Linked DNA regions of Homo sapiens. The protein of the gene in region 4 purifies or fractionates together with the protein of the main gene of each other region. This does not show direct contact. Each region holds a gene or a part of one and is shown on either strand. Other genes may lie near its edges. The genes, in order: RAB18, CNTNAP3, NFXL1, CELA3A, TIMP3, PIK3C2A and TARS2.

What was found.
Region 1: the proteins of CELA3A (region 4) and RAB18 purify together in Homo sapiens (co-immunoprecipitation; one large-scale study listed by IntAct). This does not show direct contact.
Region 2: the proteins of CELA3A (region 4) and CNTNAP3 purify together in Homo sapiens (affinity purification with mass spectrometry; one large-scale study listed by BioGRID and IntAct). This does not show direct contact.
Region 3: the proteins of CELA3A (region 4) and NFXL1 purify together in Homo sapiens (affinity purification with mass spectrometry; one large-scale study listed by BioGRID and IntAct). This does not show direct contact.
Region 5: the proteins of CELA3A (region 4) and TIMP3 purify together in Homo sapiens (co-immunoprecipitation; one large-scale study listed by IntAct). This does not show direct contact.
Region 6: the proteins of CELA3A (region 4) and PIK3C2A purify together in Homo sapiens (co-immunoprecipitation; one large-scale study listed by IntAct). This does not show direct contact.
Region 7: the proteins of CELA3A (region 4) and TARS2 purify together in Homo sapiens (co-immunoprecipitation; one large-scale study listed by IntAct). This does not show direct contact.

Annotation. Positions count from the first base shown.
Region 1 is NC_000010.11:27,535,185-27,539,211, reverse strand, and holds part of RAB18 (ras-related protein Rab-18), read right to left. Parts: intron 1,337-4,027; coding exon 1,161-1,336; coding exon of another isoform or gene 1,121-1,160; 3' UTR 1-1,120. UniProt on the Homo sapiens protein: The small GTPases Rab are key regulators of intracellular membrane trafficking, from the formation of transport vesicles to their fusion with membranes.
Region 2 is NC_000009.12:39,277,826-39,281,852, reverse strand, and holds part of CNTNAP3 (contactin-associated protein-like 3 isoform 1 precursor), read left to right. Parts: intron 1-4,027.
Region 3 is NC_000004.12:47,848,157-47,852,183, forward strand, and holds part of NFXL1 (NF-X1-type zinc finger protein NFXL1), read right to left. Parts: intron 3,787-4,027; coding exon 3,700-3,786; intron 2,993-3,699; coding exon 2,939-2,992; intron 181-2,938; coding exon 7-180; 3' UTR 1-6.
Region 4 is NC_000001.11:22,004,530-22,008,556, reverse strand, and holds part of CELA3A (chymotrypsin-like elastase family member 3A preproprotein), read right to left. Parts: intron 3,111-4,027; coding exon 3,013-3,110; intron 2,896-3,012; coding exon 2,761-2,895; intron 1,680-2,760; coding exon 1,543-1,679; intron 1,185-1,542; coding exon 1,042-1,184; intron 1-1,041. UniProt on the Homo sapiens protein: Efficient protease with alanine specificity but only little elastolytic activity.
Region 5 is NC_000022.11:32,856,678-32,860,704, reverse strand, and holds part of TIMP3 (metalloproteinase inhibitor 3 precursor), read right to left. Parts: intron 3,457-4,027; coding exon 3,345-3,456; intron 2,689-3,344; coding exon 2,567-2,688; intron 1,526-2,566; coding exon 1,328-1,525; 3' UTR 1-1,327.
Region 6 is NC_000011.10:17,089,175-17,093,157, reverse strand, and holds part of PIK3C2A (phosphatidylinositol 4-phosphate 3-kinase C2 domain-containing subunit alpha), read left to right. Parts: intron 1-881; coding exon 882-999; intron 1,000-1,089; coding exon 1,090-1,162; intron 1,163-1,501; coding exon 1,502-1,611; intron 1,612-1,698; coding exon 1,699-1,824; intron 1,825-3,237; coding exon 3,238-3,420; 3' UTR 3,421-3,983.
Region 7 is NC_000001.11:150,497,324-150,501,350, forward strand, and holds part of TARS2 (threonine--tRNA ligase, mitochondrial), read left to right. Parts: intron 1-206; coding exon 207-424; intron 425-1,178; coding exon 1,179-1,341; intron 1,342-1,573; coding exon 1,574-1,711; intron 1,712-1,892; coding exon 1,893-1,970; intron 1,971-4,027. UniProt on the Homo sapiens protein: Catalyzes the attachment of threonine to tRNA(Thr) in a two-step reaction: threonine is first activated by ATP to form Thr-AMP and then transferred to the acceptor end of tRNA(Thr). Also edits incorrectly charged tRNA(Thr) via its editing domain.

The DNA.
Region 1 (4,027 bases), on a different chromosome or scaffold from region 4:
TGAATGAAAAAAATCTACAATATACAATAGCAAGAGGTGAGAAAACTGAATACTGTGAAAAAGATTTATTAGTCTGTACAAGTTGGTTTTGATGAACTACTGGTTACTTGTTAAGTAAATTGTCAAGATTTTCATTGTGACAGTATTTTCCCTCACACATCAGAATCTGGAAGCAATATGCCTTTTTCAAATTATCACTTAGTGTTTTTTTTCCCCACCCCTCAAAACACAGAAATAGGTTTTTGAATATCAACTAGCCATTATGGAAGCCGTAAGATACAGATATTCATCAACATTACACAAGCTACAGTTAAGGTACCTGGACAAACACTACCAACATTTATGAAAAAAGATGTTGGTTTTAAAAGTGTATGAGGAGTTACAATAAACACACTATTCATGTCCTCCTGAAACCAAAATGGGGGAAAACCTTATTGTCATTCTGCCAAACACCACATAACTAAAAATGCTGCACAGTCATGAATCCAATGTACATATCACAGGATTAAAACTCCAGTTAAGCAACTGAGCTAATCATTGAAGTAAATTAAAAATACCAAGCTTCTTTAACCTATCAATGCTGTTTTAGAAGCATCATCCGAACAAATAGAGATTTAGTTATAAATTGGCCTGGGCTACATTCTGTGATGAGAATTTTGCTTAGTACTAAAAAAGAATCTCAAACATCCCAGAAAAGCTGTGGAATCATGCTCTTTATTATTCCTGAAAGAAAATTTGCCACGTTTGATGATACCTCTATTCTTCCCCGTGGTGCTAGGAGTTCTAAATACCAAGTAATTCAGAAAATGATAGGAGTATTTAAGCAAAAAGAATAGCAAAAGCAGACTTTGTATCAACATATCCTAGATAGATGGATTTTTTTAAAAATTACATGATAAATGTAAATCATAAAATTGAATGTACTTATAAAGGTACACCTATTTTGTGCTACATAAAAAAACTGTAGACTGCAAACTGTGCATGCTTACCATAACATTTTACCCGGGGTCGATGAGTGGGATTTCTTGCAAATATTTACTGCTATGATATAAAACAATTATGTGCAAACTGCAAGGTCCCTAAAATAGCAGTTAAAGAGTTTATATACAGAAAGATGTCACTATCTGATCAAATATGCAAGAGATGGAATTTCCCAGAGTTTATAACACAGAGCAATAACCACCACAGGCTCCTCCTCCTTGGCCTTCTTCCCTGTGTGACAGTTTGACTCCTTTATTCTGGTTCTCACTTTCCCACAGTCCAGGGGTCTGAATGATCTTTTCAACAAGTTCTTCAAAGGCACATTGTACACCATCACAGGTTTTTGCACTTGCCTCTGAAATTCAAGGAAAAAGGTCATTCATAGTATATTCCTTTCTGGCCATATTCTCATGTTTTTCTGGGAAACTATCAGGGCATAAATATCAGCCTACAATATATTAAGATCCAAATCAGCAATTTTTCCCCAAAGGTCAATAACTAGTGAATTTCCAAATCTCAAAATTGAGCTAATTAAATTCTATCCATAAGAATACTAGTATATAATTTTATACCAAAAAAACACTGGTTTATAATCTTAAAACTGTGATAGAATTGTAACTTGTAAAGCCCTACTTAAATAGCGAGCGAAAGTTTTTTCCTTAAGCTTTCAGTTAACTCTTACAACTTGCTCCCAAGGCAGATATTATTCCTATTTTAAAATAAAGAAATTCATACAAGTTAAACAATTAATCTGATTATTCTGTGCCTTCAACCAAGCAGCTCCAGGCAGCTGGACAAAATGACAAACCACCATGAAAACTGGTCCCACAGCAAATGTTTGCTCATGAAACTCAACTGGACACTCAGCACTGCTTCCAACCCTGCGTTTCCTTAGTGATGATCTTTCTCACCGTCTGAGATGAGTACTTTATTCCTTCCTCTCAAAACTCTATCGCAGCTAATAATCTAGCTGCATTATGCTGAGAAAATCAGAAGCAATCTGGCAAGAACTGCCTGATCATCCCACTAATAAATTTACCAAGCTACCTGCATATGTATCCTCATGCTCTGCTTTCCCTCCTGTGAGAATGGATAAACTGTCCCTGCTGCTATCCAAGCCATCGCCTTCTTTTGTTCCTGGAGTCCCATCCCTTCTCATTCACCGAAGGACCAAACGCTCTCTCTACTGGATCATACCAATCAGCCTAAAAGTCTGCCGAATTATTTTCCATCCTATTAAAAAACAAACTTGCTCTCTAGGCCACATGCCCTTCTTGTAGCCACCCATTTCTCCACTCTCTTTGAAACCTCTTCTAAAGAGTTATCCACATAAGCTGTTTCTACCTTCTTATCTCACGTTCTTTCTTCAAACTACTCTAATTAGGCTTTCATTCCCACCACTCCACTGAAATCATTCTTTTCCAAGACCACCAACACCCTTTATCTTGTCAAATCCAATATCCTAATTTTATTTGACATCTTTGGTATCTGATACTGCTAATCACTTCCTCTTCTTTTAAACAAGTTGTTCCCTTGACTTCCAGGACACTGAACATGCCTGAAAATCCTCTGAGCCCACTGACATGTCATGTGCAGCCTTGTTTGCTGGCACTTCCTCTTTCTGCTGACCTCTAATTGCTGGAATCCCCCAGGGTTCAATCTTCTGCCATTTTCTTTGTTTTGTTTTGTTTTTGAGACAGGGTCTCACTCTGTCACCTAGGCTGGAGTGCAGTGGGAGCTCCACTGCAGCCCTGGCCTCCCAGGCTCAAGTGATCCTCCCACCTCAGCCTCCAGAACAGCTGGAATCACAGGCACATGCCACTATACACAGCTGATTTTATTTGGAGATGAGGTCTCACTATGTTGCCCAGGCTTCTTCAGCCCTTTTCTATCCACGTTCTTTCCTGAAGTCACCACTCTAATCACATGACCTTGAATGCCACCTAAATGCCAATGACCACCATGTCCACCGGTTATCGGAAAAATGTCTCATTCTTATGTCAAAGTGAAATTCTTGATTCCTCACTTCCCTACCCTAAACCTGCTCTTATCTCAATCTTTCACATCCTAATTATTGGCAGCACAATCTACCTCACTGCTCATGCCTAAAACATGGAGTTATCTCTGATTGCTCTCTTTTTTTTTTTTTGAGACAGAGTCTCGCTCTGTCGCCCAGGCTGGAGTGCAGTGGCGTGATCTCGCTCACTGCAAGCTCCGCCTCCCAGGTTCAAGCAATTCTCCTGCCTCAGCCTCCCAAGTAGCTGGGACTACAGGCACCCGCCACCACGCCCGGTGAATTTTTTGTATTTTTAGTAGAGACGGGGTTTCACCGTGTTAGCCATGGTCTCGATCTCCTGACCTCGTAATCCGCCTGCCTCGGCCTCCCAAAGTGCTGAGATTACAGGCGTGAGCCACTGCACCCGCCTGATTGCTCTTTTTAATTATCCTCCATACCCAATCCACCCACAAATCCTGTCAGCTATACCTTCACTGTATCTCCTAGAACTGCCAATTTTCTACCACCCTCTACGGCTACACAGTCAAACCGCTTCTTCCTTCATCTGGGCCACTGCAAGAGAAGAACTAGTCTCTTGCTTCTGTTTCCCCTAGTCCATTTTCTACACAACAGGATCTTTTTAGAGTATCAGGTCACACCGCTGCTTCCCTACTTTCCACCACAATTGGAATACAATCCATCTCTTTACCATTTGAATGGCATCTCTCACCATCTGCCTTCTCCTTAACACACTCTATGCTCCAGTACACACGCTTTCTTCCTGTTCCTTTAACACAGTAGCCTGATTCCCACCTCAGGAAATATTTGCTCCTCTCTCAGCCTGAGATGATCTCCCTCTAGACTAGGGGTGTCCAGTGTTTTGGTTTCCCTGGGCCACATTAGAAGAAGAAGAATAGTCTTGGGCCACAAATAACATACAATAACACTAATGATAGCTGGAACTTAAAAAAAAGCACAAAATCTCATAATGTTTTAAGGAAGTTTACAAATTTGTGTTGGGCCACATTCAAAGCCATCCTGGGCCACATG
Region 2 (4,027 bases), on a different chromosome or scaffold from region 4:
GGAGGGGGCTTTGATTTCAAGACCACTAGATATAGTAGATTCCTAATTTAATTTCAAAGACAAATCAATTATTAACACAAATACAAAGAGAACAGTATTTTAAGCAAAGCTTCTGTTGTGGCAGATAACCTTTTAAGGTGTCTCCCAGTTGGGTTTCTATTTTAGATGACTTTTTGAAGAATATATCTCTGTAATAGAAATATGTTTGATGATTCTCATCTTTAAGAACTTCACATTTGCTATAATTAAGATATTTATGAATTTATTGTAAGAAGATTGGTAGAAAAAGTAATGCAACATCAAATGGGAAAATAAATATATAATATTATATAGCTGTTCAAATATAGGGTTTATGATTCTTGAGCTAATTTGAACTGCTGTACAACACCAGGAGAAAAGTCCACAGCTGTGTTAAGAAAGCTCTTATAAGCTTATGAAATTTTATAGCACAGGCTGTCACAGAACCTACAATTTACAAACATTTGTAAAAGTTAGGAAAGTTTTGGGTTCCTCAATAGAAAATGATGTTGCTTAGCTTTAAGAAAGTAACTAATTTATCTCTTTTTATTCTTGTCCACTAACAAAGGAACCCAAATGGTCTTTTAAAATTATAATAAAACTAAGCTAGTAAAATATCACATAGATTTTGAGATACTGTGAATAACCATAGAAAATAACAATTTGTTGTTCTTCATGTATAAAAATAAGCTTAACATGCTTATCAATACATCTTGAACCATAAGAGATTTATTTCAGCAGTGTTGCCAAAGGGCAAGCAATGCCTGCTGCCCGTAGAAAACTTTGAATTCCCTAAGCTCAGGGCTCCTCACTTGTCATGTAACCCACTGCGTGTGCACACATCCATCTGTGCCCATCCATATTCCCCCAGAGGACTTGGAGGCAAGGAAATTGATGCAAATATGCTGATGCTCATATTGTTTGCTATGCTGTAAGTAATACAGTCCTTTGCTTTGACCCAGGAGTCTTCTGCCGCAACGATGAAACAAACTGGCAGACTCATTTGTTAGCTTGCAAGTAGGGTAAAATCTCTCCTCACGGTTCTTCACAGTGTACTTGTCTGTGCAATGGTCATCTTCTTCATGAATATAATTATAACATGATATAAGAAATAGTGAGCTCTTACCTATAGATAAGCAAACATTGCAATATAAAAATAGCATATGTTATTTCATAAATCACAGTTGACACATTCTAGAGAAGAGATTGGGCAGCCTTTTTTGGATGTCACAGTTGATTCTACTGTCCTCATTTCTTCTTCTCTTTTCTGGGATATGAGGAAGAATTGCTGTGACAAAGCTCATCTCCTGGGTGGCCAGGGTTGATTGTCAATTTGTTTTGTTCTTGGAAGGCTAGGCAGATGTCCTCTACCTCCTTCTTTATGCCATGTGACGTTCATCCCTTTGATTTTCCTGTTGCATTTTATTTAGTATTTTAGAATACTGCCCACATTCCATTCTGGAAAGTCCACTCTCCCAGCCAGAGTTTTCTTAGACAGCTGAGCCTGTGATGGGCGTTTGTGCAGGTAGCCTCTTTTAGAAAGTGAGCTCATAAAAGAGGGAAGAATGGAATAGAGAAGAAAAATCCACCAAAAGGGGGTGTCATTGAGCTGGTCACTTCTGTGAGCAACTGGGGCATGAACTCCCTGGGAAGCTCTCAGGAAGCCGGTAGAATGTGTTTCACAGCTGTGCCTCTGAGAGACAGCAGGGGGAATGCATTTATCCCAAGTCCTGTCCAGGGATTCAGCACTGCCCTTGGGGCGCTAACTCCTGGCTCTAAGGAGAGGAATATGAATGAATGGGTTGCGACTGGGTTTCTGCAGGCATCACAGAGGCCAAGAGACAGAGAACTCGAACACTGAACTTTTTAATTTTTTATTATTTTATTATTATTATACTTTAAGTTATAGGGTACATGTGCACAACGTGCAGGTTTGTTACATATGTATACATGTGCCATGTTGGTGTGCTGCACCCATTAACTAGTCATTTAGCATTAGGTATATCTCCTAATGCTATCCCTCCCCCGTACCCCCACCCCACGACAGTCCCCGTTGTGTAATGTTCCCCTTCCTGTGTCCATGTGTTCTCATTGTTCAGTTCCCACCTATGAGTGAGAACATGTGGTGTTTGGTTTTTTGTCCTTGCGATAGTTTGCTGAGAATGATGGTTTCCAGCTTCATCCATGTCCCTACAAAGGACATGAACTCATCATTTTTTATGGCTGCATAGTATTCCATGGTGTATATGTGCCACATTTTCTTAATCCAGTCTATCATTGATTGACATTTGGGTTGGTTCCAAGTCTTGTTATTGTGAATAGTGCTGCAATAAACATACGTGTGCATGTGTCTTTATAGCAGCATGATTTATAATCCTTTGGGTATATACCCAGTAATGGGATGGCTGGGTCAAATGGTATTTCTAGTTCTAGATCCCTGAGGAATTGCCACACCGACTTCCACAATGGTTGTACTAGTTTACAGTCCCACCAACAGTGTAAAAGTGTTCCTATTTCTCCACATCCTCTCCAGCACCTGTTGTTTCCTGACTTTTTAATGATTGTCATTCTAACTGGTGTGAGATGGTATCTCATTGTGGTTTTTGATTTGCATTTGATTGCCAGTGGTGATGAGCATTTTTTCATGTGTTTTTTGGCTGCATGGATGTCTTCTTTTGAGAAGTGTCTGTTCATATCCTTTGCCCACTTTTTGATGGGATTGTTGGTTTTTTTCTTGTAAATTTGTTTGAGTTCATTGTAGATTCTGGATATTAGCCCTTTGTCAGATGAGTAGGTTGCAAAAATTTCCTCCCATTCTGTAGGTTGCCTGTTCACTCTGATTGTAGTTTCTTTTGCTCTGTAGAAGCTCTTTAGTTTAATTAGATCCCATTTGTCAATTTTGGCTTTAGTTGCCATTGCTTTTGGTGTTTTAGACATGAAGTCCTTGCCCATGACTGTGTCCTGAATGGTATTGCCTAGGTTTTCTTCTAGGGTTTTTATGGTTTTAGGTCTAACATTTAAGTCTTTAATCCATCTTGAATTAATTTTTGTATAAGGTGTAAGGAAGGGATCCAGTTTCAGCTTTCTACTTATGGCTAGCCAGTTTTCCCAGCACCGTTTATTAAATAGGGAATCCTTTCCCCAATGCTTATTTTTGTCAGGTTTCTCAAAGATCAGATAGTTGTAGATATGCGGCATTATTTCTGAGGGCTCTGTTCTGTTCTGTTCTATATCTCTGTTTTGGTACCAGTACCATGCTGTTTTGGTTACTGTAGCCTTGTAGTATAGTTTGAAGTCAGGTAGTGTGATGCCTCCAGGTTTGTTCTTTTGGCTTAGGATTGACTTGGCAATGCGGGCTCTTTTTTGGTTCCAAATGAACTTTAAAGTAGTTTTTTCCAATTCTGTGAATAAAGTCATTGGTAGCTTGATGGGGATGGCATTGAATCTATAAATTACCTTGGGCAGTATGGCCATTTTCATGATACTGATTCTTCCTACCCATGAGCATGGAATGTTCTTTCGTTTGTTTGTATCCTCTTTTATTTCCTTGAGCAGTGGTTTGTAGTTCTCCTTGAAGAGGTCCTTCACATCCCTTGTAAGTTGGATTCCTAGGTATTTTATCCTCTTTGAAGCAATTGTGAATGGGAGTTCACTCATGATTTGGCTCTCTGTTTGTCTGCTATTGGTGTATAAGAATGCTTGTGATTTTTGCACATTGATTTTGTATCAAATCAAGATACAAAATCTTGAATTTGAGATTTTGCTGAAGTTGCTTATCAGGTTAAGGAGATTTTGGGCTGAGACGATGGGGTTTTCTAGATATACAATCATGTCATCTGCAAACAGGGACAATTTGACTTCCTCTTTTCCTAATTGAATGCCCTTTATTTCCTTCTCCTGCCTGATTGCCCTGGCCAGGACTTCCAACACTATGTTGAATAGGAGTGATGAGAGAGGGCATCCTGTCTTGTGCCAGTTTTCAAAGGGAATGCTTCCAGTTTTTGTCCAT
Region 3 (4,027 bases), on a different chromosome or scaffold from region 4:
CTTTTTTTAATTGACATCATGGGTGATGTACCAGGCAAACACTACAACCACAACTCCACACACTGAAATGAGATAATATTTATGTTTTTGCCATAGTGATAGCTCAACTGCCACTTCATCTCTTTTCCTGTTCTTCTTCCGACGACCCTTCAGTCTGTTTTCAAAAGCTTCTAGTTCAGCCTAAATAAAAACAGCATCATTTTAATTAAATTCAATGCATACATTGATTTGAAAGTTTCCATTTACATAAAAATCAATTTGGGTAATGTTTTAATAGTAATGATATATAGTCAATATATTGATTTGATTTTTTAAAACACTACTCTCCACTACTGATTGTATTCAACAAATTCAGGGTTTAGGTAAGCAGAAAGGAGACTGGGAGATAACAGAAGAGAATATTTCAAACTGTAGGGCTGACTATGATACTAAATATTAAAATGTCTGATTAGGCCGGGCACGGTGGCTCACGCCTGTAATCCCAGCACTTTGGGAGGCTGAGGCAGGCGGGTCACAAGGTGAGGAAATCAAGACCATCCTGGCTAACATGGTGAAACCCCATCTATACTAAAAATACAAAAAATTAGCCGGGCATGGTGGCGGGTGCCTGTAGTCCCAGCTACTCGGGAGGCTAAGGCAGGAGAATGGCGTGAACCAGGGAGGCAGAGCTTGCAGTGAGCCGAGATGGCGCCACTGTACTCCAGCCTGGGCAACAGAGAGAGACTCCATCTCAAAAAAATAAATAAATAAATAAATAAAATAAAACGTCTTATTAAATCAGGATGCTCTAAAATATAGACACTGGTCTTATACATTGACACCATTATACTTCAACCCAATTATTATAGAACCAGCATTCTATAAAGCTTCTAGCAAGTGCTGTGATGCCTAGTGAGAATGAAGATACCTATAATTCTAGTTGTTTACAATGCATGCAATAAACATTAGTGGCTTTTAAGAAAGAAATTCAAGTGAGTAAAGAGAAAAAAGCTGCCAGAACTCGATTCTTCTCTACCAAATACATTTTTTAAAAATAGTAAAAATTCTTCAAAGGAAAAAATTCTTCATGCTTTAAAATCAAAATGACTATTTTAGACATAAAAATTTTAAACTAGTACTAAAAGACGATAACTGAATTGCATTCAATATCAAATGGGGATTTTTATCCTACTGCTAAGTACTTATTAAACTTTTACACATAATAATGTAATATAATATGCTATAGTGCATAGGTAATTAAGACAATAGTTAAAATATATATGTATTTAATAATATCCACCTAAAACTTTGTAAATGGTTATTTAATAGGAGGAAATGTAAACTTTAGTTCACATATCCATTACTGTGGTCATAAACCACACTTGAAAAAGATCTAATAATAAACTTAGTTTAATACAAAGTGGCATTCTTCAATGAGCCAAAATGTCAGACTACTCCCAAGTGGTTAGTTTCTGACATATAAAAAACGTCAAAATATCTTAAAAGCAGGCAAACTTGAGGACTACAGACACAGTAAAATAACTGACAGTTAAATGGTGACTCACAGTCACCAAGTATATATTATGTGCTGTATACAGTGATCCCTCAGTATCTGTAGGAAATTGGTTCTAGGATCCCCTTGGATATAAAAACCTGAGGATGATCAAGTCTCTACATAAATAGTGGAGGATTTGCAAATAACACACAAACATCTTCTTGTATACTTTAAATCACTCTAGATTTCCTATAACACCTAATAACAATGTAAATGCTATGTAAATAGGTGTTACACTGTATTTTAAAATGCGTATTATTTATTTTTTTTTTTTTTTACTTGTTTTGAAACAAATTTTCGATCTGTGGTTGGTTGAATTCACAGATGCAGAACCTACATATACTAAGGACTGATTATATTCTGTTTAAAGAGTCAGTAAACAGGGAATGTATCTAAGATTTTCATCCATGATGATTTATAAAAAGATAGCAAAGGGAATAAGGAGAAAACATACTAAACTATTCTTAATAACTTAATCTCCTAGGATTCCAGCCAACTTATGTTTTACTATTTAGCTCTGATAACTTATTTTGGGGATATCAGGCAAATCAACTTTACAGAACCATAAAATCTCAAAGGTCACCTTGGCCAACCATTATTTACTACATGAATTGTTTCTAATGTTCCTAATTGTTCTAATTGTTCCTACAACTCATCAAAGTTTGAATTTCCTTATTCATGCAAATCACGCAAGTTTCAATCTCATCATTCATAAAGGCAGTAGCTTAGCACACAATACAATCTGATAAGTATAAAGCATTTCAAGATACAAACTGACAAATAATAATAAAAAGTTATACATCACTATTAGAAAGTCAAGCCACTCTTTCAAGTGTATGATCAATAAAGTAAATACTTAAACAGGGAGTATCAGGAATGTACTTGTTCTCTAGGTAACAACAAAGAACAGGTTATAATCCCGCATTTAAAGATCTAATAGGGAAATATGGGAATATATTATTAAAACAAATGTACTGATTAGTAAACTGCACTTATTTGTTATAGGTGGTCTGCAACTCAGTAAAATAGAACTCAAATACTTTTAGTTAAGTAAAGTCATGGTCTCCAGAAGATGCCTTACAATGGTGATGATTCGCTCACTCTCACTCCCCAGCCAAAGGAGGAATTAAAATTCTTCTGGCTGAAGTATGGATGATATTGGCAAGAAAGTAAATTGGAAATACAAAAAAAAAATTTGGGAATATATGAGATCTCATACCTTTTCAGAGTTTCAGTATACTTAAAGTCAAGTTAGTAGATGGCTCATTTTTGTTTTACAAGAACTGTTATTTTCAGTTCACAATAGAGACTAGACCTTAGTTTGACCTTGGAATATACCCCGTGTTTGCACAAAATCTAGCAATGATGCTAAGAGACATAAATCTGGGTATTTTGTTTGGTTACCTGTTGTCTTCGTTTTTCTTCTTCAAGAGCAGCTTTGGCTTCTGCTTCTTTTATCTGTTTATACACATACAAAAGTCAATTTACAATTTAGTCATCACATTTTATATGGAATTTTAACATCTACCCATCCAGGTTCTATTAACCCATATCAACTTTTAGGAGCTTGAAATCATTTAAAGAAATGTAAATGCTATACTGAGACAAGGTTTTACCAAGGCACTATCTAATAAATTGAAGGTGGTCATGGATGGAGTGTTATACCTTATATGAGCATCTCAGCTTAACAAGTAAAATCGGTATTACATCGTAATTCAAAGAGTTAAAACACTGTAACAGCAAATTTTAAAACTGCCTTTTTTCCTCTTGAGTTGCTGTATTAAGAATCTAGAATTAATTATTAAATACTGCTGTTTCTCTAGAGTTAAATTTATCTTAAATGTGCTATCATGGAAGGGAATCCTTACTTTCAAACAAAATCAAGAGGTCACTGATTGGGTTGATGGAGGGGAAGAGTAACACTAGAGATAACCCAAGCAGCAAAGAATCTCAAAATCTTATAACGGGCATAGAAGATGAAAAGCCTTCATATACACTAGGCAATGAAAATCCCAATCTGCCATTCAAAATAAGCCTATAAAACTAGGCTTTTATTATAAAAGCAAAAAAATGAGATTTCAAGTTGTTTTTAATAAGTACATAAATGCACAAAATAAGAAGGGAAAGGCCACTAGTCTTTAAAATGATATTTAACGAGACATTACCTCAGATGCTTTCCGCTTCATTTCCTTGCACGTTGTGTCACATTCTATTGAAACCTGATTTTCACGTACTTTGTTGCACTGCAATTCCTACAAACAACCCGATTTTCAAATTTTAAATGATTTTTCCCTCAAAGACCTGTCTGCCATAAAAAAGCAAAGTTCATCTGATAGCTTAAGGTTATAAGTATTATTTGATGTCTTAATATTTAATGATGATATAGTTGCAAGCATTAAATATCTGCTTCAAATAGTGATTACTTGCTTATTTTCTCTTAACTTAAAAAAGAGAATACCATAAAATTTTTAAAAATCAACTTAATAATTACTA
Region 4 (4,027 bases):
CGATCTCCTGACCTCGTGATCCGCCCGGCTCGGCCTCCCAAAGTGCTGGGATTACAGGCGTGAGCCACCGCGCCCAGCCTTTGTTTTTTTTTCTTAGACAAGGTCTTGGCCAGGAAAGTGGCTCACATCTGTAAACATAACACTTTGGAAGGCCAAGGCAGGAGGATTACTTGAGCCCAAGAGTTAGAGACCAGCCTGGGCAACATGGTGAGACCTCATCTCTACAAAAAATTTAAAAATTAGCTAGGCATTGTGGCACACACTTGTACTCCTGGCTGCTTGGGAGGCTGACATTGGAGGGTTGCTTGAGCCCAGGAGGGCAAGGCTACAGTGGGCTATGATGGCATTACTGCACTCCAGCCTGGGCAACAGAGCAAGATCCTGTCTCAAAAAAAAAAAAAAAAGAGACAACGTCTTGCTGTGTCGCCAGGCTTGGGTGCAGTGGCAAAAATCATAGCCACTGTGAGCTTGAACTCCCAGGCTCAAACAATCCTCCCACCTCAGCCTATCAAGTAGTTGGGACTACAGGCGAGTGCCACCATGCCTGACTAAGTAAAAAAAGTTTTTCTGTAGATGGGCATCTCACTATATTACCTAGGCTGGTCTCAAACTCCTAGCCTCAAGCAATCCTCCCACCTCAGCCTCCCAAAGCACTTGGATTATAGGCAGGAGGGACTGTGCCCAGAACAATGATGGTATTCTTAATGGTTAATTATAACTTTAGAACCACAGAATTGACCTGCGTTAGAGGTCATGGGACCAGTATCTCCTGCTGTGCTGATGCGGAAGCCTGAGGACCAGGGAGACACAGTGACTTGTCCCAAGTCATGTCAGTGTGTGAGCTGAGACTGCAACCCGGGGGTCCTGACTCCCAGGCCTGGGCTCTGTGTCTGGACTGCGCTGATTTCCTCCAAGTCCTGCCTGGCCTGGAGGCTGAATGGGGCAAGCAGGCAAGATCCTTCCTCCACCTTCCAGGCAGTTGGCCCCATTCCAAGGTCCTGCACACCCAGCACCACCTCGGGCAGGTAAGAGCTGACTCACGTTGCAGCCGGAGCGGATGTACCCTCCAGCACACACCATGGTTTTCTTCACGGTGGAACCCCACCAGTTCCACCTGGAGCAGTGCTTATAGTCCACCACGGGCAGCCGGGCCTGCTGCAGCTTGTCTGGGAGTGGCCCATTGGCTGCAAGGATAAAAAGCACCGAGTCAGGGGTCTGGGGGCACACCGCTAGGTGCCCCAGAGGAAGGGGGCATTCAAGGCCCACAGTTCTTCTGCCCTGATGAGGACTCTCCTCCCACCCGCTAAATGGTCCTGCATGCTTTGTGCACCATTACATCCCTAGCACGTGGCACACAGAAGATACCAAAACATGTGCAATTGACCACATTCGTGTTTTGGAGGTTGATGGAAGAAGGCTGCAGCTGGAGAGAAATGGGAGAAAAGTACAAGGTCCGGTCTTGGTGTTACCTTCAACCTGCAGCCCCCAGGCCCTGTCTTTCTGCCACTGTCTCTGTGGCCAGCTAGAGAAGTCAGCACGTACTATAGAGACGGCCCCAGCCGGTGATGTAGCAGGGTGTCTTGTTGGGAAGGATGTCACCAGCGGGAGGGAGTGAGGCGAGCTGGACGGCATCTCCCAGCTGGGCGCTGCGTGAGAGCTTGATGAGGGCGATGTCATTGCTGGGGAGGAGGGAACAGTCACGGGGCCTGGTCCTCCAGCCGGCCCAAGTCCTACCTTCTAGCCGTTGCTCCAGGCTATTCCACCTCTGAGATGCCCCAACTTCTTTACCCTCCAAATCCACTCTTTCATCATCATTATTATTATTATTATTATTATTATTGAGACAGAGTCTCGGTCTGTTGCCCAGGCTGGAGTGCAGTGTCACAATCATAGCTCACTGCAGCCTCCTGGGCCAAGGGATCCTCCTGCTTTCACCTCCTGAAGTGCTGGAATTACAGGCATGAGCCACTATACCTGGCCCAAATCGTTCTTAAGGCTGAGGAATTTTATTTATTCATTTATTTATTTTTGAGTCAGAGTCTCGCTCTGTTGCCCAGGCTGGAGTGCAGTGGCATGATCTTGGCTCACTGCAGCCTCCGCCTCCCGAGTTCAAGTGATTCTCCTGCCTCAGCCTTTCCAGTAGCTGGGATTACAGGCTCATGCCACCACGCCTGGCTAATATTTGTTAAGATTTTTTCATACACTTGAAAGGCATAAGATTGTCTCCTTGGCCTTCACACCACCCAGGAAGCCCAACTTCATGGTCACCTTTTGACAAATGGCAAAACTAAGGCCCAGAGAAGGCCAGTGACTTGCTCAGGCCATACACAGAGTTAATGCCAGAGCCTGACTCTCAGCCCAGTGCTCCTCCTTTTGCCCATAGTGCTGGGAGCCCAGGATGCACTGGGTGAGCCATCTATTGAATGGAGAAACCCTCGGATATGGGGGAAGGATGCCAGAGGAACCCTGAGCTCTGAAGCCACTAGCCAAGTGGCCTTGGCAGAGTTCCTGCCCCTCCCTGAACACTGCCATCCCCTCTGTAGGGAGACAGGTTTGGTGGTGATGGTCCTTAAAGGCTCTGCTGGCTTCAATCCTCAGTGTGTGGGACCTGGGCACAGGCTGCTGGACTCAGCTCCCCTGTCCCTATGTCCCTATGTCCCTACGTCCCTACTCAGAGTTGGAGCCTACTCAGACTTGGCTGTGGGTCATGGAGGGACAAGTAGAGGAGCCCCTGGGTTCCAGACCGGAGCATTCACTCACCCACAGGCCACACACGAGCGGTTCCAGAGTGGATGCACAAACAGCTCCTCAGAGTTGATGGGGATCACCTGCTCGGGGCCCTCCTTCACAGCAAGGTTGTACTCACCCAACACCACCTGGTAGGTCAGATCCCTCCTGCAGGCAGAGGTGAGGTCAGTCGGGGCCTGACTGGCTCACCTCCCTCCTTCCCCATCATCACCCACTCTCCCCCGCTGCCCAGGGCCACAGGCAGGGACAGGGTAGAGAACTCACGAGATGCAGTGGCCGGCAGTCACAACCCAATCGGGGGCGATGAGGCTACCGCCACACGTGTGGTAGAAGCTTCCACTTTTCTCATACTGCAGGGAAACCTGGTGGCCCAGGAGGAAAGGGCCTCAGTGGGCTGGGCCCCACCATGAGAGTTGCCACCAATGGCTGTATAGGTTGTGCACTGTGCAACTCTAGAGGGCGCCATTCACATGGAAAACGAGAGCACCCACTGAAATATGCAGCATACAACCTGCGACCTGGGCAGCTGCCCGTGGTGGCCCTATCACTTTTCCATGGGGGTCACATTCTGATTCTCCAAAGCCTCCCCACACCAGCACTATGACCTCCCTGGGGACCCCAACATTCTCTACCTTCTGTCTCTTAACAGCCCTTGAAGGCCCTCTGTTCTATCACGCACCCCTCGCCCTGTGAGTTTTTTTTTTTTTTGAGATGGAGTTTTGCTCTTGTTCCCCAGGCTGGAGTGCAATGGTGGCAATCTCAGCTCATTTCAACCTCCGCCTCCCGGGTTCAAGCGATTCTCCTGTCTCAGCCTCCACAGTAACCGGGATTACAGGCACCTGCCGTCGTGCCTGGCTAATTTTGTATTTTTAGTAGACACGGAGTTTCACCATGTTGGCCAGGCTGGTCTCGAGCTCCTCACCTCAGGTGATCTGCCCACCTCGGCCTCCCGAAGTGCTGGGATTACAGGCGTGAGCCACCGCGCCCAGCCCCCCTGACTCTTTTGAACCTCAGCTCTTTCAAGGCCTCTTGAGCCTTCTGAAGCACAGCTCACCCTGATGAGTTCTTTGCCTCTCTTCCCATTTCCTACACATTCTGATTTTCAAAAGCTCCATCTAGACCAGGGTTAGCAAACTGTGGACAGTGGGGCACATCAGGCTTCTGGTCTGTTTTTGTAATAAAGATGTCCTGGAAATAGTCACATTCATTTCTGTATTGTTTGTGTCTGCTTTCATGCTACCATGGCACAGTCAAGTCATTACTATCCAAACCATCAAAT
Region 5 (4,027 bases), on a different chromosome or scaffold from region 4:
TTGACTACACTCTCATCTGCCATCTGAGCTAAGCCAGGAAGGCAGTTAAAGAAAGGCCCCCAAACATGAAGCAGGGACAAGGAGACGGACAGGGGTCAGATGACCCATGATAGGGAAGAGAGGGTGCTGACGGTGTTCAGAATTTCAAATTTTAATTAAAATGAAAAAAAAATGTCAACTTGGAATGTCATGATTTTCTTCAAACAAGCAACGACAACAAAATAGAAGAGATTAAACTATTGGCATATTTAACAGCATTGAACAGAATTCTGTGTCCTGTAAAAAAATTAGCTTATGTCCCCATGTGGGTATATGCAAATGTGTATACAAACATATCCCCCTAGGTGAGCTAAACACTATTCTGGAAATAGTATCCTCTACCCAAATCTACTTGGCTATATCTGTGGATAGTGTATGGTGTGTGTATTTATCCAATTTACATAAAAGAAAGCTCCTGGCCAAATCTACCAAAGCGTTTTCCAGGAGGAAGTCTGGTGGGAGGCAGGGAGAGGAAAGACATTCATCTCAGTCTTTCACCTGAGCTTTTGTACAAGGCAGGCAAATTGCCTCCTGACCTCAGGCAGATGTTTAAGTCTTCACCAACTAAGAAAGCTCTGTTATTCTGGCCTGGGTGCTTGCTCCAGACTCAGGAACATCTGGTCAACACAAGCATCACTGGGCTGGGGAATTGTGTGTGTGCTGCATCATCTCCGACTCTCTTGTAGTTCCTTCCTTCCCTCCCTCACTCTTACATGCAGACACAGACAGACACAGTCTGGTTGGGACATGCAGTGGCAGCTCCTGGTGTATAACATCTTTCACACACCTTGAGTCTATCTGCTTGCTGCCTTTGACTGATCCTGAAATGGTTGGCCTTTCAGCAAGTTCCTTGTCTGTGTCCTTTATGTATTGGAGGAGAAGGGCAAAGGGAAGAGGGTCTGGGAGATGGTGAGGTGGGGAAGAAGCAAGAGGGGTGGGAATTACAATCCTCAAATGGAGTAGTTTTTCATTTTTGTTTTCCTAAAAAAATAGAGATTATATTATCACGAAGAAGAGGAATACAGGTTCCTCATTCTTTCTGGCATGGCACCAGAAATTCCCAGGTGGAAATGAATGATGTCAAAACCAAAAAGAAGGGGCAGGGTGGGGCCAGGAGGATAGTTCCCAATAAACCCCATATGACAGCATAGACCTTTCTTTAAATGTTCCAAGTGCTAAATTTGCAAGAAAACAGGCACTAATTTCATTGTCATCATCTGGGAAGAGTTAGTGTCCAAGGGAAGCTCAGCGGGAAGGGAGGGAAGTGAGGTGGGGCAGGGTCTGGCGCTCAGGGGTCTGTGGCATTGATGATGCTTTTATCCGGGGGGGCCCATCCTCGGTACCAGCTGCAGTAGCCGCCCTTCTGCCGGATGCAGGCGTAGTGTTTGGACTGGTAGCCAGGGTAACCGAAATTGGAGAGCATGTCGGTCCAGAGACACTCGTTCTTGGAAGTCACAAAGCAAGGCAGGTAGTAGCAGGACTTGATCTGCAATTAGATAACAGGCAGCAGTTGATGGACTCTGCCATGGTATGCCCAGGCCTGAGGCTACCGAGCCTGGATTCAGACCCTGGGGCCACTGCATGGGAAGCCTAGCCACATCAGTCCCTCAGTGATCATAATATAAATAGCACTAGCTTGAGCATCTGCTGTCTAACAGACATTCTGATAAGTGCTTTGATATTATTCTCTTTAATTCTTATCACAGTTTTAGGAGGCTCTGAGAGGTTAAGTAACTTGCTGCAGGTCACACAGCCAGTAAGTAGCAGAATTAGACTACTGAGAGGACTTTTTCGTCTCAGGTGGGAGATCTCAGTTGTTTTAGGGAATCGAGGAATTAGAAAGGTTAGAGCATAAACTTTGGAGTCTAGCTGCCCTAGGTTGGAAACCAGATTCAGTGAACTGTGGGACCTAGGGCTAGTTACTTAAGTTCTCTGAGCTCTCATCTGCAGAATGGAGATCATAGTAATTAAAACCACACAGGACTGTTTTGAAGATGAAGTGAGAGAATGGCCCAACTTCCTCCCACAGCAGGCAGGCTGCACCTTGGCCCTATACTTGGGTCAGGGGGATGGGCCTGGTAAAGAGAGACCTTCTGTAGCATCTGGTCTCTGCAGTCCTGGGCCCATTTGCCTACCTGGGGTGGGGTTAGCGATGAGTCAGCTACCAGGGTGAGCCCACTTGAAACCACTTGGGAGAACCTGCCAGTGTCAGGATCCTATACCTCCAGCCTTGAACTGCCAGGTGGGGCCAGGGACTCAAGAGCCCTCATGCCCCAGCAGCTTCCAAGTGGTCATCATGGAGGCAGCCGATTACAGCAGAAAGGCATTCTTCCTTCCCTGCCTTCCTCACTGCCCCACCTGGGGCAACAATCCTTACTATATCTGCTCAGACCTGCCCCTCTGCCCTGGCCTAACACATGCATACCCTTCCCAGCCGAGGGCCTGGCACCCAGTGCATTGGGAGCTGATGTTTCTAGGGCTGCAAGTCAGCACCTCCCCTCCTTCCCCCAGTGACCCCAGAGCTTACCTTGCAGTTACAACCCAGGTGATACCGATAGTTCAGCCCCTTGCGCTGGGAGAGGGTGAGCTGGTCCCACCTCTCCACGAAGTTGCACAGCCCCGTGTACATCTTGCCATCATAGACGCGACCTACAGGAGGAAAGAAGAAAACAAGGAGAGGTTGTTTTGTCCAGAGCCTAGCCCAGAGAGAATTCACACCTACTATGTTCCCACTTAGCCCAGGCACTGTGGCTGGGTACTTTTCAGACCCATGATTTTATTTCACCCTACCCAACACCTTTTAAAATGGACTGTAGCCCCATTTTCCAGATGAGGATAATGAGGCTTGGAGAGGTAAAGTGATTTGCCAAAGGTCCCAAGCCCATTAAATACTGGAGCTAGGACTAGAGGCCAACTCTTCACTCCCTTTATAATGATTTTTGTTTTTGTTTTCTCCTTTACTACACTGACTGCCTAAAGATGAATAACTTTCAAAGACGGGCCTAACAGGTCGAGTGTGAGGTGGAGAGGAACAGATACTCCCTTTTTATTTACAGTAAAGTTGAGAAGCTACAAATTAGGAGATTTCCTCCCCCAGGTGAGTGGTGGAGCTAATTCCAAAGTCCAGCCTAAGTGTAGGAGCCTCAAGCTCCTAGCACTGGGTAAGTGGGATGAATTCAACATTAGAGACTCCTTACAATTTACTGGACATTTGGTGAGTCAACTACTCCGTATGTGTTCTTCTGAAGTCAAGAAACAGTGGACCTTGGCCAAACCCTGGCCTAGAAGCTAGAGTTGGCCATTACCTGTCAGCAGGTACTGGTACTTGTTGACCTCCAGCTTAAGGCCACAGAGACTCTCGGAAGCTTCCGTATGGATGTACTGCACATGGGGCATCTTGGTGAAGCCTCGGTACATCTGTGGGCAAAAGGAACATCATGACTTCTTCTTTCCCAGTTTGGACACCCGTATGATCCCTAATCCCACTGCTGGGTATGTATCCAAAGGAAAGGAAATCGGAATATGGAAGAGGGGTCTGCACTCTCATGTTGACTGCAGCAATATTCACAATAGCCAAGATATGAAATCAACCTAAGTGCCCATCAACAGATGAATGGATAGACAAAACCTGGTATCTATACCCAATGGAATATGATTCATCCAGAAAAAAGAATGAAATCTTGTCATTTGTGGCAATGCAGCTGGAACTGGAGGTCGTTTTGCTAAGCGGAATAAGCCAGGCACAGAAAGACAAATACACCATGTTCTCACTCATGTGGGAGCTAAGAAAGTAAATCTCATAAAGATGGACAGTGGATTGGTGGTTACCAGAGGCAAGAAAGGTAATAAGGATTGGGGCAAAGAGATATAATTAATGGGTACAAAAATACGAGTACGCAGAACAAGTAAGACCCAGTGTTCATTGAATCAGTAGAATGACTACAGTAAACAATAACTTATTGTATATCTCAAAGTAGCTAGTAGAGGA
Region 6 (3,983 bases), on a different chromosome or scaffold from region 4:
TTTTCATATTTTCTTCAGACTAGATTTCAAAAGTGAGGATGAGGTGAAGTGGGTATTAGAGTTTGTTTCCGTGTACAGTTTCATTTTTCCACTGCCACCAAAATAAGTGGAATTAAGATTATCCTTTCAGCACCTTACTTAGGCCTTATGTTATTATTTGTGGATTTTACTGGTATATGTAATATTTATGGCTGATTGAGTAGTGATTTTATTTTTTAGGGATCAGATCTGGATAAAATATTTATGAGTGATTAAACTTGAGAAGAAATATTAGAAAATAAGTATTAAGTAGGTACAAAAGTAATTGCGTTTTTTGCCATTACTTTTAATGTCAAAAACCACAGTTACTTTTGCACCAAGCTAATAATAAATATAGGAAATCAACACATACACCTTTTCAACCAAGGCTCATAAAAGGATAATGGGTGACTGAACGATGTCATCTCCAATACTTTGAAGAGAAATCACAAAAAATTACTTATTTTATTTTGAGACGGAGACTTGCTCTGTCACCCAGGCTGGAGTGTAAGTGATCTCGGCTCACTGCAACTTCCGCTTCCCAGGTTCAAGTGATTTTTCTGCCTCAGCCTTCCGAGTAGCTGGGATTATAGGTATCTGATTATAGGCATCAGCACGCTAATTTTTGTATTTTTAGTAGAGACAGGGTTTTATCATGTTGGCCAACCTGGTTTCAAACTCCTGACCTCAAGTGATCCACCCGCCTTGGCCTCCCAAAGGCCATGAGCCACCGTGCCCGGCCACAAAATATTACTTTATAATGGATTAAGACTACTTTGTCTTTAAGTATATATGAAAAAGTGTATTTCTAAGGAAATATTGTACTTATTTAAATCCCACTTGTTTTTGTTTTTCTTTTGTAGCTTTCCTAATAGGATGGTTCTAGGAAGAACACACATAAAAGATGTAGCAGCCAAAAGGAAAATTGAGTTAAACAGTTACTTACAGAGTTTGATGAATGCTTCAACGGATGTAGCAGAGGTAACCTTACTAAATGAGAAGTAATAACATCTTATACCTTTTGTGTTACATAATATTTAAACTAATGAATTGCTTTCTCTTTATTCTTAGTGTGATCTTGTTTGTACTTTCTTCCACCCTTTACTTCGTGATGAGAAAGCTGAAGGGATAGCTAGGTCTGCAGGTGAGATTATTTTTTTTCTCTTTATTGGTAACTCATGATCTGCAAGTCTGTAACTTCTCGATGAATGTGGTAGAATGACAGCAGGCTTACTAGCTGTAGTCTGAGAATGGGAGGAGAGTATTCTTTCTAAGCCAGTCTATTTCTGAATAAATATAACTTTCCTAATAGATGTGATTACTAAAGAAGTATAAATCAATGACCTATCAGGTTGTTTACTCCTTTTTCCCCTCCCTTCTGTCCGCACCACATGTGACAGTCTTGAAAATAAAGCAAAATCCTTTTATTGCAGCTTGAACCACTACAACCAGTAAATAAAGATGAAAATATTTGTATTTTCAGATGCAGGTTCCTTCAGTCCTACTCCAGGCCAAATAGGAGGAGCTGTGAAATTATCCATCTCTTACCGAAATGGTACTCTTTTCATCATGGTGATGCATATCAAAGATCTTGTGAGTGATTACAAAGAATGATGGTTGTAGAGGAAACCCTTACCTTGGTAGGAAGCATTACTATTAAGGGACTGCTTTTCTTTTTAGGTTACTGAAGATGGAGCTGACCCAAATCCATATGTCAAAACATACCTACTTCCAGATAACCACAAAACATCCAAACGTAAAACCAAAATTTCACGAAAAACGAGGAATCCGACATTCAATGAAATGGTAAGTTAAAATCATTTCTAGAAGTTTCCTTGGTTTATTATTTTTTTAATTTTCATTTTTAAGTTCTGACGTGCGTAAGCAGGATGTGCAAGTTTGTTACATAGCTAAACGTACCATTGTGGTCTGCATACCTATCAACCTATCACCTAGGTATTAAGCCCAGCATGCATTAGCTATTTTTCCTAATGCTCTCCCTCCCACCATCCCATCCCCCAACAGGCCCCAGTGTGTGTTGTCCCCTTCTCTGTGTCCATTGTTTTGAGATTTTAAATTTTAAAACATTTTAAGGCCAGGCGCAGTGGCTCATGCCTGTAATCCTAGCAATTTGGGAGGCCGAGGTGGATACATCCCTTGAGCTCAGGAGTTTGAGACCAGCCTGGGCAACATGATGAAATTCCATCTCTACAAAAAAAAAAAAAGAAAAAAATTAGCTAGGCATGGTGGCACGCACCTGTAATCCCAGCTCCTCGGGAGGCTGAGGTCAAAGGATTGCTTGAGCCCAGGAGGTCAAGGCCACAGTGAGTCATGATCATGCCACTGCACTCCAGACTGGGCAACAGAGTGAGAGACCCTGTCCCAAAAAAAAAAAAATTTTAAGTTTTTAGGTATCAGTTGCTGAACTATTTGTTATACAGTGTACACCAATAACAGTCCAATAGTATTTAACAAAATGATATAAAATAGAGCCCTCATAGACCTTAGGAGCCATAATTCAACTACGTTTCCAGTGTGTGAACCCCCCTCTATAATAGTCACAAAAAGTGGTTGTCTAGTCTGTGCTTAATTACTTCCAGACTATTCAGTTTGTCTTAGATCACTCCACCTCTTAGATGATTATTATTATTATATTATTTTATTTATTTTTAGAGGCAGAGTTTCGCTGTTGTTACCCAGGCTAGAGTGCAATAGAGCCATGTTGGCTCACTGCAACCTCCGCCTCCTGAGTTCAAGTGATTCTCCTGCCTCAGCCTCCTGAGTAGCTGGGATTACAGGCATGTGCCACCACGCCTGGCTGATTTTGTATTTTTAGTAGAGACAGGTTTCTCCATGTTGGTCAGGCTAGTTGTAAACTCCCAACCTCAGGTGATCTACCCGCCTCAGCCTCCCAAAGTGCTGGGATTACAGGCGTGAGCCACCATGCCTGGCCTCTAGTTTTTATTTTTTAGCTAATGATTAGTCTTGCTTTGTATCTCTCTATGTCAGACATCACAGGAATGATAGTACAATCCAAGACTCCTGAAACACAAAATGTCCTTCTAAAGTATTCAGACAAAACCTACCGGATGTGTCATAATCAGTGTCACTCATTGTGGTCACTCTTTGGCTAATATTCTCACGTTTTCACTTGAAATGTTCCAAGAAACCAAACAAACTTTAATTTGTGATTTACTGTTCTTTTTTCCTTTGTTGTAGCTTGTATACAGTGGATATAGCAAAGAAACCCTAAGACAGCGAGAACTTCAACTAAGTGTACTCAGTGCAGAATCTCTGCGGGAGAATTTTTTCTTGGGTGGAGTAACCCTGCCTTTGAAAGATTTCAACTTGAGCAAAGAGACGGTTAAATGGTATCAGCTGACTGCGGCAACATACTTGTAAACTAGTGAATGTTTGAGCTTTGGAAGCATGAACAGTTATAAACGTGCATGCATACATGCACACACACACAGACACACACACACACACTTGTTAATTTTGTATAGTATTTTTATACTTGGACAGAACTTATAAAGTTAAATATACTTGCTGCATTTCAACACATCTGTTGGACCAACAGTCACATAACTAACCTTTTTGAATTTTTGGAAGCCATTGCTGTTTTAAAGTCATTATGTAGAATGCTACAAACCCTAAACTTAATATATACTAATTCCTGAAAAAGACTTTGAGACAGTACTATGTCAGTTCAGCCACCTATTTTGCATTGTTTTCTATAAGGAGGCAAAGCATATGTGTTTTCCTGTTATGCACCTTTTATAGCCTTTACCACTGTGTAATGTTCACAAACACCAAAGTAAAGGAAAAATGCAGGATGTTACCGTAAAATCCAGCTGCTATTCATGGAGCTGAAAAACAAAGCACAAATAATAGATAGCTAAGTTAAGAACTACTAAGTAGTTTATAGAAGTAGGGAAAAACGTAATACTGCTTTTTATTCATGT
Region 7 (4,027 bases), about 130 Mb from region 4:
TAAACATAAATATTGAAAGTGCTGGTGACCTTTAATACTACAATTGTGTGGTCTGCAGTCGGGGAGCATAGAGATGGGACCTGGTATTTAATAGGTTGTGGTTGCAATCAGCATGGCCTGAGGGCCCAGGAAGATCACACAGCTGACACCCTACCTGCTTTCCTTCCAGTTACTCTGACCTTCCATGTCTGTACCCTCCTCTCCAGGCTGAGTATGCCCATCGTGGTTTCTCCGAGGTGAAAACTCCCACACTGTTTTCTACGAAGCTCTGGGAACAGTCAGGGCACTGGGAGCATTATCAGGAAGACATGTTTGCCGTGCAGCCCCCAGGCTCTGACAGGCCTCCCAGCTCCCAGAGTGACGATTCTACCAGGCATATCACAGATACACTCGCCCTCAAGCCTATGAACTGCCCTGCACACTGGTAAGCTGGGAGCTAGGGTTACAATCAGGTTGCTAAATATTAAATAATAGAAAGCACCTTGGGGCCGGGCACGGTGGCTCACGCCTGTAATCCCAACACTTTGGGAGGCCGAGGCGGGCGGATCACCTGAGGTCGGGAGTTTGAGACCAGCCTGACCAACATGGAGAAACCCTGTCTCTACTAAAAATACAAAAAATTAGCCGGGCACGGTGGCGGGCGCCTGTAGTCCCAGCTACTCAGGAGGCTGAGGCAGGCTAATGGCGTGAACCCAGGAGGTGGAGCTTGCAGTGAGCCGAGATCGCGCCACTGCACTCCAGCCTGGGTGACACAGCGAGACTCCATCTCAAAAAAAAAAAAAAAAAGAAAGCACCTTGGAAAGAGTATTGGGACACCGATTTGAGCCTACAGTCTTCCCCCTAGCTAACCATGTAAATTTGGGAAACTCATTTTACCTCTTTAGGTCTCAGTCTCCTTAAAGTTGCTATCTAAGGCTCCTCCTTCAGCTCAGTGACCATCACAGAACAGGGAAATGGTAAACGATGTCTGTTATTGTGTTACTGAGAAATCCACTTTTGAACCTCAGGGCTCAGACTGTGATGAGTGGGATTGACAGGACTCAGTGGGAGGATGTGCTGAGGCTGGAGAGGGTTATAGCAGATGGTGCAGAGAAAGTAGGCAAGCAGATTGGGTGGAGGAGCAGTCTTCGGGGGCTAGTCCTCCCTATGGCCCTGACCCCTCTGCACCCCAACCTCAGCCTGATGTTCGCCCACCGGCCCAGATCCTGGCGGGAACTGCCCCTGCGACTAGCTGACTTTGGGGCTCTACACCGGGCCGAAGCCTCTGGTGGTCTGGGGGGACTGACCCGACTGCGGTGCTTCCAGCAGGATGACGCTCACATCTTCTGTACAACAGATCAGGTGGCCTTTCCCTGGCTCCACCAAAGCTTTTCTAAACCACCTTTCTTTCTCCCTATGAACCTGCAAACCCCTGATCTTTATTTGCCCCCTGTATGTACTATAATTCAGCTACATTCTACCCCCAGCTTGCTTCCGCTTCCTCTCTGTTTTTGCCCTTTGTTTTCCTCAAACTGCCAGCATCCCTGATCTCTAGCGGGCTCACAGCTCACTGACCCTTATTTCCTGCCCCTAGCTGGAAGCAGAGATCCAAAGCTGTCTTGATTTCCTCCGTTCCGTCTATGCCGTTCTTGGCTTCTCCTTCCGCCTGGCACTGTCCACCCGGCCATCTGGCTTCCTGGGGGACCCTTGCCTTTGGGACCAGGCCGAACAGGTGAGTAGGAGGTAGAGAAATAGAGGCAGATAAACCACTCTCTGGTGGGAAGGAGTGGAGAATACAGTAATCAAGGTTCTCAGAGGCATCTGGTGAGTGGGTCATTTGTTGGGGACTGACCGGATGTGTTGCTTTTGAAGTCTAAGATGATGTATTCCACTCTTGTCTCATTCCTTCAAAGGTCCTTAAACAGGCCCTGAAGGAATTTGGAGAACCCTGGGACCTCAACTCTGGAGATGGTGCCTTCTATGGACCTAAGGTAAGCTTGGGACCCTGGTTAGTGTTGTATTTATTTATTTTTTGCTTTGTTTTAGTAAATATTTAATAGATACAAAGAATTTTTTTTTTTGAGACAGTCTCACTCTGTCACCCAGGCTAAAATGCAGTGGTGTGATCTCAGCTCACTGCAACCTCCAGCTCCCTGGTTCAAGCAATTCCCCTGCCTCAGCCTCCCGAGTAGCTGGGATTACAGGTGTACGCCACCACACCCGGCTAATTTTTTTGTATTTTTAATAGAGATGGGGTTTCGCCATGTTGGCCAGACTGGTCTCGAACTCCTGACCTCAGGCAATCCACCCCACTTGGCCTCCCAAAGTGCTGGGATTACAGGCGTGAGCCACCGCACCCGGCCACAAAGAAATATTTTTAAACTTACGTAGGATATAAAGAAAAACAATATACTTTCTGCCCTCTTGGCATCTGCAATCTAGTGAGGGCTGCTGAAGGTAAATAGGCCATATCAGTGCTGCGAGATCTGTGCTGTGTAGGTACCAAGAGAGCACGTTAGCTGGGGTTAGCATTACTCGGGGAGGTTACAAAAGGTGTCCTGCAGGAATCACTTTCCAATCTGAAAGGTGAGTGTTGGCCAAGTAAAGATGTGTTTCAGGAGGGAACAGTGTAGGCAGAGGCTGGGGATAAGGATGAAAACACATGGCAGACCAATCTGGGCAACACAGGGAGACCCTGTGTCTACCAAAAAAAAAAAAAAAAATTAGCCGGGTGCAGTAGCTTGTGCCTGTGGTCCCAGCTACCCAGCAGGCTGAGATGGGAGGATCACCTGGTCCCAGGAGGTAGAGGCTGCAGTGAGCCGAGATTGCGCCCCACTGCACTCCAGCCTGGGTGATAGAGTGAGACCCTGTCTCAAAAAAAAAGAAGCCAAGGGGAAAAAAGGACTGAAAAGTGTCCACTGGATTTAGTAAAAAGGCTGCTGGATTTCAAAGGACCATTTTCAGTAAAGTAGGGCCTGAGGGTGGAGTTAGAAGATGAATAAATGAGGCCTGTGTGGTGGCTCACGCCTGTAATCCCAGCACTTTGGGAGGCCGACGTGGGTGGATCACTTGAGGTCAGGAGTTCGAGACCAGCCTGGCCAACGTGGCGAAACCCCATCTCTACTAAAAATATAAAAATTGGCCGGGTGAGGTGTTAGGACACACCTGTAGTCCCAACTACTCAGTAGCCTGAGGCAGGAGAATCGCTGAACCTGGGAAGTTGCAGTGAGCCAAGATCACACCACTGCACCCTAGCCTGGGCAACAGAGCAAGACTCCGTCCCAAAAAGTAAAAATAAAACAGGCTGGGGGCGGTGGCTCACGCCTATAATCCCAGCACTTTGGGAGGCTGAGGCAGGTGGATCACCTGAGGTCAGGGGTTTGAGACCCTGTCTCTACTAAAAATACAAAAATTAGCCCAGCGTGGTGACAGGCACCTGTAAACCCAGGAGGCGGAGGTTGCAGTGAGCCGAGGTCGCACCACTGCACTCCAGCCTGGGCGACAGAGTGAGGCTCCATCTCAGAAAAATAATAATAAAATGAAAAATAAAATAAATGCTATGATGAGAGGAAGTCTATTTGGAGGGAGAAGTTGTTGTAAAGGGAAGTTCCTGGAGAGGTTTAAGGTAGGATTGAGAAGCCTTCATAGAAGGGATCACCATTGCCATTGTATCCAGGGTGGAAGGAAAGGCTGAAGGTAGATGCAAGGAAGTTTGTAGGCATGGTAACAGGAAGTTGAGGCTCTTCCCATCCCATGGTATCAATTATCTGAATTCTTCATGAGGCAGGATCATTTGCTGAAATGAGAGTGGAGAAGAGGAGAGTTGTCAGTGAGGGGGCTGAAGATATGAAGAAAAGGCTGTGTGCAGTGGCCCCCTCTTGTAATCCCAGCACTTAGGGAGGCTGAGCTGAGATGATCACTTGAATCCAGGAGTTTGATACCAGCCTGGGCAACATAGTAACAGGGCATCATAATAAGACCTCGTCTCTACAAAAAAAAATTTTTTTTTTTTTTTTTTTTTTTTTTTTTTATTGAGACTATGTCTCGC